2 separate regions of the Homo sapiens genome follow, and region 2 is linked to region 1. The links come from fine-mapping of genetic effects on gene expression. Tissue or cell type: whole blood. Region 1 holds a variant in brackets; the other region holds the start of a gene. All regions are shown on one strand. Distances are between the middles of the regions.

The links. PIP is the estimated chance that this variant, and not a neighbour inherited with it, causes the effect.
Region 2: it holds the start of SGCE, and the variant in region 1 is fine-mapped to the expression of SGCE in whole blood (TOPMed, PIP 0.94).

The regions. Positions count from the first base shown.
Region 1 is chr7:94,559,609-94,567,715 of GRCh38, reverse strand. It overlaps a transcript of CASD1 not described here. Among named protein-coding and RNA genes, the nearest start is that of CASD1, 54 kb to the right of the region's middle. The variant C/GTC (reference allele first, on the strand shown) is at 3,642.
Region 2 is chr7:94,651,151-94,659,238 of GRCh38, reverse strand. It overlaps SGCE (sarcoglycan epsilon), which reads left to right and starts at 3,106. Exons shown (of 11, transcript NM_003919.3): 1 at 3,106-3,249. The coding sequence starts at 3,141. It overlaps PEG10 (paternally expressed 10), which reads right to left and starts at 2,914. Exons shown (of 2, transcript NM_001172437.2): 1 at 2,648-2,914. The coding sequence starts at 2,652. RefSeq lists enhancers at 588-882, 1,662-1,711, 2,981-3,758 and a silencer at 952-1,191.

The DNA of each region.
Region 1 (8,107 bases):
ACAAGGAAATAATAAAGGACCTTGCCTTTGAAAAAAGAAGCTAGCAGGCATAGGCTGGCAACAGTAGACATTCCTATTTCAGTTCTCTCCACATAGCTTCCCTGGTATTTTAAAGATGACCACAATGTTGAGAGACAGGGGCTTACAAACTCTCTGGTGTCTTCTTTCTGAAATCCCCTTACTGCACTGGTATTTTCAAGGCTAGTACCTTGCCAAAAATGAAGTATACACATGCTTCATGAGGTAAAAAAGGGGCTCATGGCAATTTTCATTTTTGTTTCAATAATATGTCTTTCTTTTACATGGCCCTACTCAGATATTAGAATTCTGAAGAAAGATAAGGTAACCACTGGTATGACAGAAGCAGGGCATAGGAGGCTCAAATCAATAGAGAATAAATAAAAACTAGGCCATTTCAACATGTTAGAAAAGAGAAAAATAAATCACTATAATAAAGAGCAGTCAACAAAAAATACATATTAAACAAGATGGATGAGTTCTAGCCTCTGACAATCACGAAGCAAAATCTGGTATGTGGGTGTGAACTCACAGACTTGGTTCCAATAGGAAATAAATCTGTAACAGAAAGATTAAAAAAAAAAAAGGATGGAAGCAGTAAGACTAAACATCACAGTTAGCAGAATAAATGTGAAAGTGTGTAACACCTCTGGTAAATATCTGGAGTATAGCCATTCTGTTTGGATGATTGAGAGTACAAATTCAAGTATAAACTGCTAGAGGATCCACCAGGGTTAGGAGAAATATTTCTGCATGCTAAAAAGCCTAACCAGAAGAGCCATCATACTGCCACACCATGATGAGCCGAGGGGTAGTTAAGACCTGGCTAAGGTTCTCCTCAGGAAGAAACTGAATTTGCTCTTAATCACAGACAAATGGTCAATTGAGGGCCCAGATTTCTGCTCCATATAGCACAGACTCAATAATTTTACTCTGTTAAATGTTTAAGGAAGGTGTAACCAAAAGCCCACTATGGCACATTTGAAAAAAAGAGAGAGAAAAGTCAATAAAGCTTCCATTAGAATGCCTAGCTTTAAGCAGTGTTGCTTCCTGATGCACCCTCCAAGTTAAACTATTTATGTAATGGAGACCAAAGTAATGGAATTAAAGTACTATATGGAATCATTCAACTATGAAACAGCCATAAGTTGGAGAAAACCTGTGTTTAAAAAAAATTGTAAGAGTTCTTTATGTAAGGATGTTAAAAGTGGTCTATTTGTCAAGTTTTTTTTTTCAATTTGACTCTTAATTTTGTTTGCAGCATTTCTTTTGACTAAGAAATATTTCTTTTTTATAAGTATTATAATCACATTCATTTTGCTTTCTTTTGTTTATATGCTTGAGCTATTCTTTATCAGAAATTAGATAAAAATTAAATTATATTTTGTTTCCCTCCTTTCCTTGCTTATAAAATTCTATGTACACTGTACTAAGAATTTTCACATATACATGATTCTATTCCCAGTTTTATTTCTGGTGTTTTGATGAAGCCCATGAATTTAATTGTAAATTTCTGCATTCATTTGTTATTAACTATAAATGCTCACCTCATTCTTTGTGGTTGACATGAAAATATGCTGCTCAGCTCTCCCTTCAAAAAACCTATTGTGAGGAAGTCCTGGCTCTCCCTGGGCTGCTGATCCCAGCCAATGACTGGGCATGGAAGCGGTACTAGAGCCAGCTCATTCCCGCTCAATGATTGACACTTCCAATGGTAATCTTGGTTTTGGAGCTCCCCATCATCCTAGCCAAGACTTTCTTGAAACTACATTGCATTCTGAAGCTCTTCTTACCCAATTCTCTGACTACCCCTGGTACCTTTCCCCTTTATCCTTCACAAGTATTTTCCTTAGCAAATGTATTGCACATATGATTCTGTCTGCTTCTAGGGAACCCAAAGTGACATAGTTGGCACCTGGAATGGTCTGAGAATGTATATGGTTAGATGAGGTTAGGAGACTGGCTCACTCATGCTCGGCAGGCAACGAGAAGCCCTTACTAAGCAGAATGTGAATCATGAAGTCCTTGGGATAGGTGATAGCTTAATTGCTGAAATTTCCATTAGTGGTGACCTGGGAGAATGTCCTGGTGGAGGGAAGCATCCTTACTAATGTGATAATTGAGGCATTTGAAGGTTTTGGGAGGAACAGCACCTACAGGGACAGTTAAGTCAGTGGGTTATTGCTCACTTGTATGACTGTCCTGTAGATGGAGGATGAGAAGCTGAAGGCAGTTAACAGACATAAGCTAAGTTTTACAGCCACAGGACCTTTTAGGACGCTTACAAAGAGGAACTATACCTTCAGTGGGTGGTAAGTTCAGGATTTAATAACTAGGGTTACAGAGCACCAGAGGTGTTTAAATGCTCAGCCAAGGCAGGTCTATTACGCTAAATTTAGGACCCTTATGTGAAGCCTGGGACTCTGAAACATGGGTTGGGAATATACACAGAACTAGTCTTGCTATTCACAATGGGTTGATAGGCCCCAAAATAATAGAGGCCAGGTAGTGGCACATAAGTGTCAGAGTTGCTTTACCATTAGAGTCTTGGGGGTAGCCAAAGGGTCTTAATGGGAAGGAGTAGTATACATAGATAATAGAATATGGTGTCTCTAGGGGAAAAATAGATGGGCAGCGAATTACTGTGCTACTTAACATATACAACCAGAAGGCAAGAATAGAGGAGCAGGAGGCTGAGAGCTGTAGCCCAATAAAGCACTGCAATTCCTTGCTGATTTCCCAGATCTGAGACTATGTTCAGATCTGGAACCCATTACCTAAAGAGTTAGCCAATTTCCCAAGAGAAAGAACCCTGCAATGCAATGACAAAGATATAGAGTACTGCAAAGCTTTCTTCAGTTCTTCCCTCATAGAGATTTACAGACATTTACTAATGTGATTGTTGCTGTTAAAAGGAGAGTAACCAGCCTTTTTGACAACTATTTGACATTGATACATGAAGACCCAAAGTATTTTCATGGCCTTCAGAGTGGGCGCACGCAAAGACTAAGTAGTAAATGGGGTTCTGGCCAAAGTAGGTTCACTATGTCCATGGATCCATCCTGTTGGACCATGCACCCCATTTACTACTACTTTAGCCAGGACCCTGCAGTCATTTCCTGAATGTATAATTGGAATTTATATACTTGAAAATTGAAGTTAGCCTCAATTGGGTCCTTTGCCTGTGGGGCAAGAGCTATCATAGAGGATGAAGGCCAAGTGGAAGACTTTGAAACTGCCTCCCTAACTGCCAAAGACGGTAAATTACAATTTCTTATCCCAGGGGTGATGGAAGGTATTAGTGCAACCATTAAAGATCCAAAGAATGCAGGGATAGTGGTCCCTATCATATCACTTTAATTCATTAGTCTGGCCCTGCAGAAACCAGATGGATCTTGAGGAATATCAGTACACTACAACAAGCTCAACCAAGCAGTAGCCTGGACCACAACTGTTGTGCCAGACACAGTTTCATTGCTAGAGCAGAGTAGTAAGGCCTCAGGTACATGTCTACTGGCTTAGTGAATGTGTTCTTTCCATTCTAATCAGAAATTGTGTGCATTCACATGAAAGAGACAAAAATACTCATTTGCTTCTTCGCTATGGTAACTCTTTTGCTGTGT[C/GTC]ATAAAATAGTCTGAAGAGATCTAAACTATCTAAACATCCCATAGGATATTATGTTGATTATGTTGAGGACATCATGCTCATAAACTGGTTATCACACTGGAGGTCTTGGTGAGACATGCGTACTCTAGAGTATGGGAAATAAGCCATTAAAAGACTAGTAGTCTTGCCACTTAAGTACACTTTTTAAGAGTCCAGCAGTCAGGGCTATGACAAGACATGTCCATCAAAATAAAAAACACATTGCTGCATCTTGTATTCCCTACTGCAAAGAAAGAAGCTCCTAGTGCCTAGTAGGCTCTTTGGGTTCTGGGGGCAACACATTCCACACTTAGGGATACTGCTCTGGACATATACCAAATGATAAAAATGGTAGCCAGCTTTCAGCGGGGGCGTGGGGGAGGGGGGCTAAATGAGGGCTGTGCTATTAATGAAAAATGTATGGATTTGATAAAACAAAAAATGTAAGAAATAACAGTCAAAACAGAAGACAACTGGCAACTGGGAAAAGTGTTTGCAAAATTAGAGTTTTCATCCTTATTACACAAGGAATACTTCTAAATTACCAAGAAAAAGACAAGCCCTTAAGTTGCACAAGGATAAAAAAAAATAAGCAGGCATTTTAAGAAAAAAATTGAAAGTGGTAAGTAATTAGTTATGGCTTCATTCTCTAATTGACCAAACCACCAAAAAATTGTTTTTCCTCAAATTCCTTAGCTATGTATAAGAGTTTTCCAGAGCTTAACTATTATCTCCACAGAGGCCTTTTCTGACCCTTGCATGGAAGACGCCTCTTTAATGTTGCCTCCGTTTAGGATATTTGGAAAAGGGGGTAAGGAGGGAGGTAGTATAACCACTTTTCTTGTGTGGTCCACTCAACGTCTTCAGGTTCCATGTCCCTTCTTGCTACTCATTTCTCCAGCAATTTAGTCACTACTCACTTTGTCATACATCATTGGAGATTCATAGAGCAGAACCCCCCTAAAGGTGATACTGCTGTTTCTACAAAGGCCTTTGTATGTAAGATAGGGTTGAGCATAAGGAAGATCTTACTCCTTCTAGGTACCATCATATCAGGTTGTTCCGGTGTCTCTTATTTTTCTGAAGGGCCAGGAAAACTAAGCTGTAAAATACAGGAATTTTCCTGAATCCTCCAGCATTCTCTGGCATAAAAAAAAAGGGGGTCAGCTGAGACTACATCCCAGTAGGAGACCACCTGGTCTAAAATGAAACCACTCCCAGACTGGAACATGTTGACATGGCAGTAAGAAGCATCCATAGAAGAGGTTATTGCTACGTCATAAGGGCAAGTGTGTACCAACACCTTGAGTTTGCAGCCTGACATCTGGTCCACAGAGCAGCAATTTCAAAAGAGGAAACAATTGGCAGTTAGAGAAGGAAATGGCATAGCTACCATTGGAATTTTTGGTAATCTCAAAGAAAAAAAAAAGGAAACTGTATCGACTGAAAAGAAACACATGAAGTGAACAGGATAAGGAGAACTTTCGGCCTTATTTTCATAAATTGCAGAGAACTGTGAACATTTGTTATAGGGACATTTCGTGAGCAACTCAGGGACCCTAATGAGGAGATAAATGACTTGGAAGACTAGGATTTTCAAACATAACCAGTGAGGCAAAAATATTACTACTACCATTTGTATATACTATGACTCTTGATCATCCTGACTGGTGTGGTCTGAAGAAACACTTAGGACTACCAGACTGCCTCATTTCAAAAAAGAATGTAAGATGGCTTATAAGGCTAGGCAAAATATAGCCAAATAACATCATCTGAAGTATATGAGAAGGAAAAAGGGATCAAGAATGAGACTAATATAAACAATACCAAAGTGCCCTGTTTTCTAGATGGAGCACAAATTTAGCTCTTGCTTCTTATCGGCAAACATAAAAAGCCAACTCACAATGTACCTAAGATAGTAGCAAATGAACTGTTTACAAGAGGTGCAAATATTACAGTAAGGTCAGAATAACTTCAGACTCCACAAAAAGAGCCCATTGTGTGATGTAATCAACATTCCTACAGTTGACACAATGATGAGTTTCATAGAATTGTTTATAGAATGTCCTGCAATGCTAACCAATGGCTTCAAACTCAAGAGAAATTCTAGGGGTAAGTCAGGAAGTTACTGTCCAGGCGGTCTTTGCTAGGTGCTTGCCAGACTTAATTCTCAGGTACATTCTAAAGTATCTGAGGAAGTGATAAAAAGCAAATCCCTAACATTCCTTTATAAATACTGTTAACCACAGTCAAACTCACAGAAGATAGATATTAGCTAGCTGACGGTTCATGACTGGAGTTCAGCCACCCTAGGGTTCTAAGAAAAACTGTCTTAATGAGACATTAAGCTGGTGTAGGAGTGACATCTTTTAGGCAAACTTGAGTTTAATAATCAGTAGTTTCTGAGAGAATACTCTAGAGTTTGACCGAGGTTCTCTTTAGGAAAAAAAAAAATTGAATCTGTGCTCTCACACAGACAGATGGGCCATTTAGGTTCCAAAGTTCTGCTCAATATAACCTAGTCTTAATTAATTTTAGTTTGGAAAATGTTTAAGGAAGGCATAACAGTGGCCATTAAAAAATCTTTGCCCTCCCCGCAATTCCCAAAAAGCATCCATAGAAAGCCTAACTTTGAGTACTGTGGTTTCCTGATGTTCTTCCAAGTTAAATTATTTATGTAATGAACATTGAGGTATCTGAATGAAGTGACCTTCTGTGTAGAATTAGGAACCAAGTGAAATTTGGAAAACAGCTTGGTGTTTCTAAACTATAAGAGCTCTCTATATACCCAGGATATTAATTTTTTTTTGAGGCAGAGTTTCGCTCTTGTTGCCCAGGCTGGAGTGCAATAGCGTGATCTCGGCTCATTGCAACCTCTGCCTCTGGGTTCAAACGATTCTCCTGCCTCAGCCTCCCAAGTAGCTGGAATTACAGGCCCCCACCACCACACCTGGCTAATTTTTTGTATTTTTAGTAGAGATGGGGTTTTGCCATATTGGCCAGGCTGGTCACGAACCAGGACATTAAATTCTCATCAAATATTAATGTTCTAAAATGTTCCCACTTGTATTTTTTCTATTATGTTTTTGGGCATACTGAAATTTTAAATTTTCACGTAATAGATGTAGCAATTCTGGATTTACCTTTTAGCCTTAACAGGTCATTTCTCATCTAAGAATGAGATGTTCACCTACATTTTCTACTGTTTATTTTACATGTCTTTAAACCTATTAATCATTTTATATTTCTTTTGGTATACAGAGTAAGAATGGGAATTTATCACTCTCACCCCTCAATTAAGCAATAGTCCCAGGGCTATTTAAAGAATATTTCTACCTTTCCCCAGTAATGTGAAATCAAACCATTACCTTATTCTAATATCTTTTGATAAAATCTGTTTTTATGCTGATTCTATCCATTAATCTATATATTCTTGCATCCATTCCACACTGATATTAGTGTAAATAATATATCCAAATATACAACTTTACAAATCCCACTTCTCCCGTTACTCTAAAACTTTTCCTGGATATTCTGGCCCAGGTATTACTTCTTTATAGTTTCCATTTTTAATTTTGTAGTCTCTGAGAAAGGGCTCCAGTTCCATGTGCCTTATGCATTACGTACTTTGGAAGTACTGGATTCCTCAGACTTCAACTAAATGTTTTTCCATCACTTTGTCTCTCCCAGTGACAGGGTCTAGAGGTGGGGATAAAATGGAAGGGGTCAAGGAAAGAAAGTGCTGAATTCTTAGTTCTAGTTTTCTCTCAACACCAGAAATAACTGCCACTATTTTCTCCTGACTAACCTAAGAAAAACACATCATGCCACTCCCAATATTAGTTATCTTCAAAAACCTGTCTAGTCTAGTCTTATGAAGGAAGGCATATTCATTCCGTCTATCAGCAGGACTTTGACCCTGTGACTTGTTAAAAACAAAACAAATACTAACCTACTTATGAAAGAGCTACAGTCAAAAATCAAGTACTAAGGATGGATAGAAAAGAGAAAGACAAAGCCTAAGAATTAAAACAACAAAACAAACCAACAAAACTGCCAGATATAGAATCAAGCTTTATTTTTACTGAATGATAGTATAAGCTTTTAATATAACATAGGCATGTATAATATTGAAGATATTTTAATTTGAAAATAAAGGGAAAATACATTTAATTATTCCATTTTTCTTAGTTTTACTTTGAATTCCAAATAAGAATTTTAATACATTTTTGGCTGGGCACGGTGGCTCACGCCTATATCCTAGCACTTTGGGAGACCGAGGAAGGTGGATCACCTGAGGTCAGGAATTCGACAACAGCCTGGCCAACACGGTGAAACCCCGTCTCTACTAAAAATATAAAAATTAGCCAGGCATGGTGGTGCACACCTGTAATCCCAGCTACCTGGGAAGCTGAGGCAGGAGAATTGCTTGAACCTGGGAGGCAGA
Region 2 (8,088 bases), 92 kb before region 1:
AGGAAAGGAGCAAATCAGAAGAGACCTACAGACACCAAGCAAGACACTGAATAAACCAATTTACTCTGGTCATTTAACACATATTTAATGAATGCCTACCATGTGCAGGCACAATTTATTATACATAGGCAAATAGGCTAGGGTTAATCACCTAGAGATTCAAGGAAAACACCCAGCTTCATAGGCACGCAAATAAAAGCCTTATCCTCACTCAGAGGCCAAACCAACAGCACCAATTTTGTATCCACCAAAACATCCGATTCCCAAAGGTCCACTAGTGCCTCTAAAAAAACCTTAAATGTGAAAATATTTTTAAAGTTTTTAAAAATAAATTGTTAAGTTTTGGTTTTCATTTGCAGTAAAAACATTTGGCTAAATTGCCTTTAGAGGCACCAGCCATGTCAGTTTACAAGGTCCCTTCATAAGCCACTATCAGGAGTTTAAATTGTGGGATTATGTTATTGAATATATGCAAAGAACATATTAAAAGTGCTCATAAATTCCAGTTATAATTATTATTGTTAATTGTTTTATTTATTATTCTATTAGACTCTAGTAGCCAAAAAGCAAAACCAACACAGCAGAGAAACCGCAGGGGGGCGGGGCTGTACAGCCAGGGCTCAGGCAAGGAAGGTGCGCAGGTGCAGAGGACCGGCGCCTGAAGGGAGGGGCTGAGGGTTCACACTGCGCATGTGTGCTAGCCGGCTCTGAGGGAGGTGGGACTATAGGCCAGCCCGGCAGAGGCAGGCTTAGGGAGGGGCCAAGCCTTGGAGAGGCGGGGCCTGAGCAGGCTACCTAAGAGGAGGCGGGCCTGGGGAGGTGGGATCTGGGTGAGCTCACATCAGAGGAGGCGGGCCCAGGAGAGGCGGGGCCTGGGCAGTTCACCTCAGAGGAGGCGGGCCCAGGAGAGGCGGGGCCTGGGCAGTTCACCTCAGAGGAGGCGGGCCCAGGAGAGGTGGGGTCTGGGCAGTTCACCTCAGAGGAGGCGGGCCCAGGAGAGGCGGGGCCTGGGCAGTTCACCTCAGAGGAGGCGGGCCCAGGAGAGGTGGGGCCTGGGCAGTTCACCTCAGAGGGGGCGGCCCCGGGAGAGGCGGGGCCTGGACAGTTCACCTCAGAGTAGGTGGGCCCGGGAGAGGCAGGGCCTGGGCAGCTCACCACAGAAAAGGCGGGCCTGGAAGAGGCGGGGCCTGAGCAGCTCACCTCAGAATGAGGTGGCCAGAGAGAGGTGGGGCCTGGGCAGGCAGGCGCTAAGGAGCTGGGAGGAGGGGCCTGAGGAGGCCGCATCTAGAAGGCGCGCTCTGGGAAGGCGCGCTGCAGGGGAGGCGCGCTCTGAGGAGGCGCTGTAGGAGGAGGCGCTAAGCACCGCAGAGAAGGCACACTAGGATGGGCGGGGCAGGCCTGAGACTGGCTGCTACAGGGCTGCAGAGTATCTGCACACCCCCCCCCCCCGCCGCCAGAATCCCCCCTCCCAAACCCCTCCCACCAGTCACCAAAGCCAGATTCATTTCATGCAGCAAGAGCAATCCACAGATCCAATTCCCCCGCCATACTCAGCAAACCCACAGTTTCCACAAACTGTTGCTGGACGCTGATTCGCGCCACCACAACTACACCGCCACTTCAATCAAGCACAAGTAGGCAGGCAGCCTGCTCTGCCATCACCAAAAGATTCCCATTTCCACTCCAATCAGTGCCCCTCCACTCCACTGCTATAGCGGGAATGGTGTGGGCAGAATGTTAAACACTAATTTTTGCCCGGGGCTCCATTTTGTCTACCAGCACCATCATGCGAGAACCGTCCTGCAGAAAAATAGAGTGGGAGCCATTCCAAAAGGTGAAAGGGTGGGGTCCTGCTCCAAGAAAACAGAGGAATTGTACTCCGCAGCTCATGTCCCACTACGGCTGCTTTATTTGTAGCGCAAACGGTCTGCAGCTCCTGTACCTCTGCAGCTCTTACCACTTTGTAGTGCATCTTAGGTGTGAATTGTTCCGCAGCTCATGTACCTCTGCAGTTCATGTGCCTCGCAGCGCAATGAAGCGCTGTTGTCGGGCTGGCTAATCGCATCGTTTTTGTAGCGTTTTTTGTAGTGCTACTCTTCTGCAGCTCAGATTTTGCAGCGCATGTAAAGCGCAATTCAGTTTTCTGTCTGCAGCTCCTATATCGCTGCTCCTCGTTCTGGATTGTAGCGCCACTGAAGCGCCCATCCGTCAGTTTGTGGCACATAAAGCGCCCATCAGTTTATAGCGCAATGAAGCGCCAGTTGTAGCTCCCATCAGTTTGTCGCCCGCGTGAAGCGTGCTTGTAGCGCATCTGAAGCGCCAGTTTGTAGCGCATTTGAAGCGCTTATCTGTTTGTAAAGCATGGCACTTGGTAGCGCATTTGAAGAGCAAATTGCAAATCGATCTATAGCTCCTGACCGTCTGCAGCTCATCACTGTCCGCAGCTCATCTCTGTCTACAGCCCGTATCTGGACTTGGTCCTGGAAACCCAAGCCTTTAAGGCTTGGTTTCCCCATTTGTTTTGGGGTACAGCCAGTGAAGGCGTGACAAGTTTTGCGTGGAGACATTCTGGGGTGCTACTCCATCTCCCGCAGCTCCCGATAAGCACGGGGAATGAACGTGATCTTTAAAAAAAAAACGTCCTCACCGCATACTCACCACGCGAGGACTCCTCTGCGAAGACAGGAAGGATGGGGTCCCACACCTGAGCCAGGCGCGGTCTCCACTGGGTGCTCCGCAGCCCGGAGTGGCTCCGGACGACAGCCCGCTCAGCGGACCTTTCGCCAGGCTCGGTGGACCTTCTCCGCTGTTCTCCTCAGGGCGCAGTCAGGTTTCTTCGACACACACCAACCGAAGTTGAAGCGCGTGTACCAGGAGCGCAGACTGTGAGCCTTATATAGGTTGCACCGAGGAGGGGGGCGCCAAATCCCAGCGTGCTCCGCGGGCTAGGGGGTGGAGGGGGGTGCGGGGATGGGGGATGGGGGTGGGGGCGGTGGCCACGCTGCAGTGGCCCGCCGCTAGAGGGAGTACGGGATTACCGAGGGGGTGCGGGATGCTGATGCTGAACTGGCCAAGCTGGGAGGGAAGAAGAAAGGGAGGGGAGGGGAGAATCGAGGACGGACGGCCTAGCCAGGCCAAGAATGCAATTGCCCCGGTGGTGGGAGCTGGGAGACCCCTGTGCTTGGACGGGACAGGGTCGGGGGACACGCAGGATGAGCCCCGCGACCACTGGCACATTCTTGCTGACAGGTTAGTGGCCTGCGCGCGACGTGGAGGTCCCGGGGCCAACAGGCCGCCGCCTCCCCCTCCCCCGCTCGGGTTCCGGGCGCCTGAGCGCGCCCTTTGGGCACCAGCCTCTCTTTCTGTCCCGGACCCCACCGTACCCCTCCTTCAGTACACCCTGTACCCCATTTCCCCGGCCCAGCTTCTCTCTCCCCAGGCTTGACCCCTGGCCTTTTTTTCCTCTCCGCGCCCCCGCGGGCCCCTCCCTGCTCTGCGGGCGCAGAAATTCCATCTCCAATTCCTGTTCCCAACATCCCCCTCCCCGCCCAGCCCCAGGGTAGTCCTCTCCCGATCCCTGTAGCAAAGAGCTGGGGGTCGTTGCCTGTTTTTCTGGGGGGCCCGTTTCCCCGCGATTGGGCTCTGCGACCGCGATGCGAGCCAAAGGAAATGGGTGTCAAGCTGCGTCCCCGCTACACAAACACATCTTTTTTCCTTTTCTTGATAGTGGTAGAGAACACAAAAATGTGACATTTAAAACACCGAATTTCCCCCTCTTGCTAAGTGCATTTCTCGGTGACGGAAATCTCGGTTTTCTTCGGTTTTACGGAGCAGGGAAGCGGAATCATGAAATGCTGGGAGCTAAACAGGGCGTTCAGGTCAGGGTTAACCCCGGCTGGAGGCCAGAGATGCTGCCGTACCGAGTGCGCTATTTCCAGAAACCAAAACCAATTTAAAACAGCTGTGGATGCTTCCAGTGTGTTTGGCGGGCTTTGAAGGCTCCCAGCTACCGACTTTTGGTGGCGATTACGAGGTTTACACAGAGACCTTGCTTCCCTTGCAACGTTACATTTTCCTAAATCTTGTAGGGTGAATGAATGCGTTTAGTCACGGCAACCGCACGTTTAATCCTTTCCAGCGGGTTGCCGAGATTCGGCCACAAATATTTGCGTGCATTTGTACTATGAACATATATATTTTATGTCAGGGAAAATTGCAGTGGCTGATAAGACGCTAAAATTCTGATGAGGAAGGATGCTAAATAAAACCTTAACGCGGATTCCCATCTAAGCGCCTCAGTGTCAGGTGCTTGGGAAACTGACAATCTGTTGATGATCTTAGTAAAACAAGTTTAAGTTAAAAGGGAAAACCAAATTGTCTACAGCTGAGTTAGGTTTCTGAAACACAGATGAAACGCTTTCATATTTGAAGAGCAAAATTGAGCACATTTTAGTAACATTGCTACGGATTATTTTATACTTGGAATATCAATAAGAATTTGACTTATTGTCATAACAACGTTGCAGACACCGCACTTTAAAAGAGAGCCTTTCTAGGAATAAACAAAACTGTAGCCCATTTACTGAGATTTTACTTTTTATTAGAAAATGCCCACTATCCGGAATATGAATGAATGAAATGCAGCTTTTTAACAAAGACATTTCCCTAGGAAGTTGGGTAAACACAATTATACTTTTTAGAAGTGCCTTTTAATTTAATCTTTAGGATGTTCACCCTCTTCTGCAAGATAGAATAATTCCAGGATTTCTTATGCTTGGTAGAGTACTGTTCTGGTGACCGCTGTCAAATTCTTACCAGTTTTGTTTGTTTGTTTAAATTCGAAAGTTACTTCACCTAGTTAACTGAGACATTATTTTTCTAAAAATTGAGATTTAAAACCAGTATAGATGAAAAGCAGGAAAAATTAAAGTTCAAAAATCCATCTTAAGACTTTAAAAGTTTGAACAAGTTTGAACCAATTTGATTTTTTCATTTCAAAATGCTAACCAGGACTTTTTTTAAAAAACGTAATTAGTATTTTACCATAATAAAAGTAATTTCAGGTCATTGTACAAAATTCAGGAGAGAAAACCCTAGAAAACTCTAAAGAAAAGGTCACCTGTAACCTATTCACCCTGCAATAACACCAGTAAACATTATAGAGTCTGCTTTTTCAGACGTTCTCTATGCATATATAGGTAGCTATACAATAAATATTTTTCATAGGATTGCAGTTAAATACTTTCTAAAAGTTAAAAACAAGATCAAATTAATTCTCCTCGATTATTTTCTTTCCAAAGAGCCTTTAAATGTTAAATAACATTAAGTTTGGAGAGCTTTCTTTAAAGGAAATAATATTAATTTTTTAATTAAAATTTTAAATGAACAACCTTAGTACATAAATATTTAAAACCAGAAAACTGAGAAGAATTTTCTCCCATCTCACTATTCTAACATATTGTAGTTTTTTATTCCTCTACATATGAAAATATTTTCACTTTGCTTAGAAATAGAATTTTCTAAGGGAAAAAACAGCATCAATATATAAGTAATTTAGATAAAACCTTTTTGTTATCCAAAAAACAAAACAATACTAAAAATAAAACAGAAAGATAACATTAATAGAGCAATACTTTAGGTAACATTTTTGTGTTGTCTAGAACAACAAACATTTTCAAAACCAAAACCAAAACCAAATTAATAGATAAGAACTTTAAACATATTTTGGATATTTAATATCTATGTGAATTTTGGATTTTCTCAGATATTTATTTCTGGTGTTGACTATTTCTGCCCATTTTGCACAGGGTTGCATATACAGCAAAGAGGAGTTAATGTGTATTATTTATTTTATCAAATAATAACTGGGCTTCGTATTTAGACATTTTATCTATTTTTATGAGAATTTGCTGTAGATCTACGAAGCTGTTGATTTAACACCTATATTTAACTTCTAGTATGTTAAGAAAATTGTATTTCAAAACAAAGTGGGATTTTCACTTGTTAGATAATAACTAGACTTTCTCTTTGGACATTTTACCCATTTAATGAAAATTTGCCATGTATTTATAAAGCTGTTGAATTTACCTTATGTATTTAGCTTAAGTTCTAGGGTTTTAGAAAACGATTTCAAAACAAACTGGAATTTTCACTTGTAAAATAGTAATTGTACTTTCTATTTGGACATTTTATCCCTTTTTAATGACAATTTGCTATAGATCTATGCATCTGCTGACTTACCACATATATTTGGCTTAATTTCTAATATAGAGAAAATATATTTCTAAGCAAAGTAAAATTTTCAGTTGTCAAATAATAACTGGACTTTCTATTTGGACACCTTATTCATTTTTAATGACAATTGCTATGGATTTACGAACCTGCTGACTTACCACCTGTATTTGGCTTAAGTTCTGGTATGGTACGGAAAATTTATTTCTAAGCAAAGTACAATTTCCAGTTGTCAAAGAGTAAGTGGACTTTGTATTGAACATTTTATCCATTTTTACAACAGTTTGCCATAAATCTAAAAGCTGTTGATTTGCTTCATGTATTTTACTTATCCTATAGTATGGTGGATAAATTGCATTTCTAAGCAAAGTGGCATTTTCACTTGTCTCACAGACATTGAAAATAAGGGACAACACCAGAAAAAACTGGTTAGCGACAACCTCAAGGAAATAAAGATAACATGTATCCAGTTTCTAACACTAGTTTTCCACTGGTGAAAATCATGCAGTACACAAAATATTGAAGTAGTGAAGAAATCCTGACTTGTTAAAAAAATTCCCAAGTCAAATATTCAGATTGTTTCTGATTCTAATAAGTGCAGTATTTATAGATCACATTTTCTCCAAAATACCCAGCCACCTTCTTCCTTTTTCTTTTTTGCTAATTATCCATAATCTACCCAAATCCTTTCCTTAAAACTTACCCTTCCATATTCTGTAAACACCTAAATGCATATTCTAACACTTATTTCCTACCTCCAGTGTAAAAAAATGACTCTAGGGGAATTGATGATATGGGTCTGTGTTCGTTAGAAATTCTTGGGCTGGAGGGGAGATCGCTTAGTCCATAGCTTCACAGAAATATCAATATGATGGCTGTTTTCTTTCTATCCCTCTCAACCTCCCCAGCAGAGACAGACAGACAGACAGATGTGAGGAGCATACATAGACTAACGCACACTCCATTCAGGCTTTTTCTAAACTTCGGAATCCAGTTCTCCAGTCTGTTATCTCCCTGATTTCCAGAAATATTAAGCCTAAAGTAGCAGTACGAGAAACAAAAAAAAAAAATAATAAAGAAGAAAAAGCCAATGTTTCTAGGTATCAATAAGTCTTTTCAAGTGAATATGTTTCTGATTCAAGTTTTCAGGTTGATAGGATCAGATAGAGTCTCAATGCTCTTAAATGCTATTTCACATGGATTGCTTCCAAGCCAAATTCTCTCTTCATAATTCCCAGTGTTTTAAATTCTGTAACCGTATTAAAGACAGTATTAAGTAAAAAACAAATCTCCAGTTTCCACAGACTGACTCTGGAACAACCATTTCCATTGATGTTGTATCCCTTCTAGTCTTTGTTCTGTGTACATAAATATTTGTATATAATTATAATTTTAATATGTATAGATTTCTTACACTTTGTTTTGAAAGATAAGTTAATCCTGCTTTCTGCAAAGCATTTGTCAAGGATGCAGGATGCTCTTGTGTATGAGGTGGTGTGCAGATTAATTAGCAGTATTGCTGTGTGAGCGGGAGGCAGACTGAACCAGCACCGGCGAGGTGTATACGTTCTTGGGTTTGCGTCAGGGTATCGTCCCTGGTTAAGGATCATAAGCCTTTGCCCTGAGTTTTGTCTTCCTCAGCATTTGTACGAATGACTTTGATGAAGATCTAAGAGGCTTGCTTTAAAATCCATGGATTAATTGAAAAGGGATAGCTGTTAGAAATAGGTAACAATTTAGAGTTAACATGGTTTTTAAGTGGGCTGCAATGCTGTGCTGAAAGCAAAAAAATATTTTATAGTAGTAAATGCATCATAATTCATTGGTATGGAAGTATGGAGATGACTTTGTATGGTG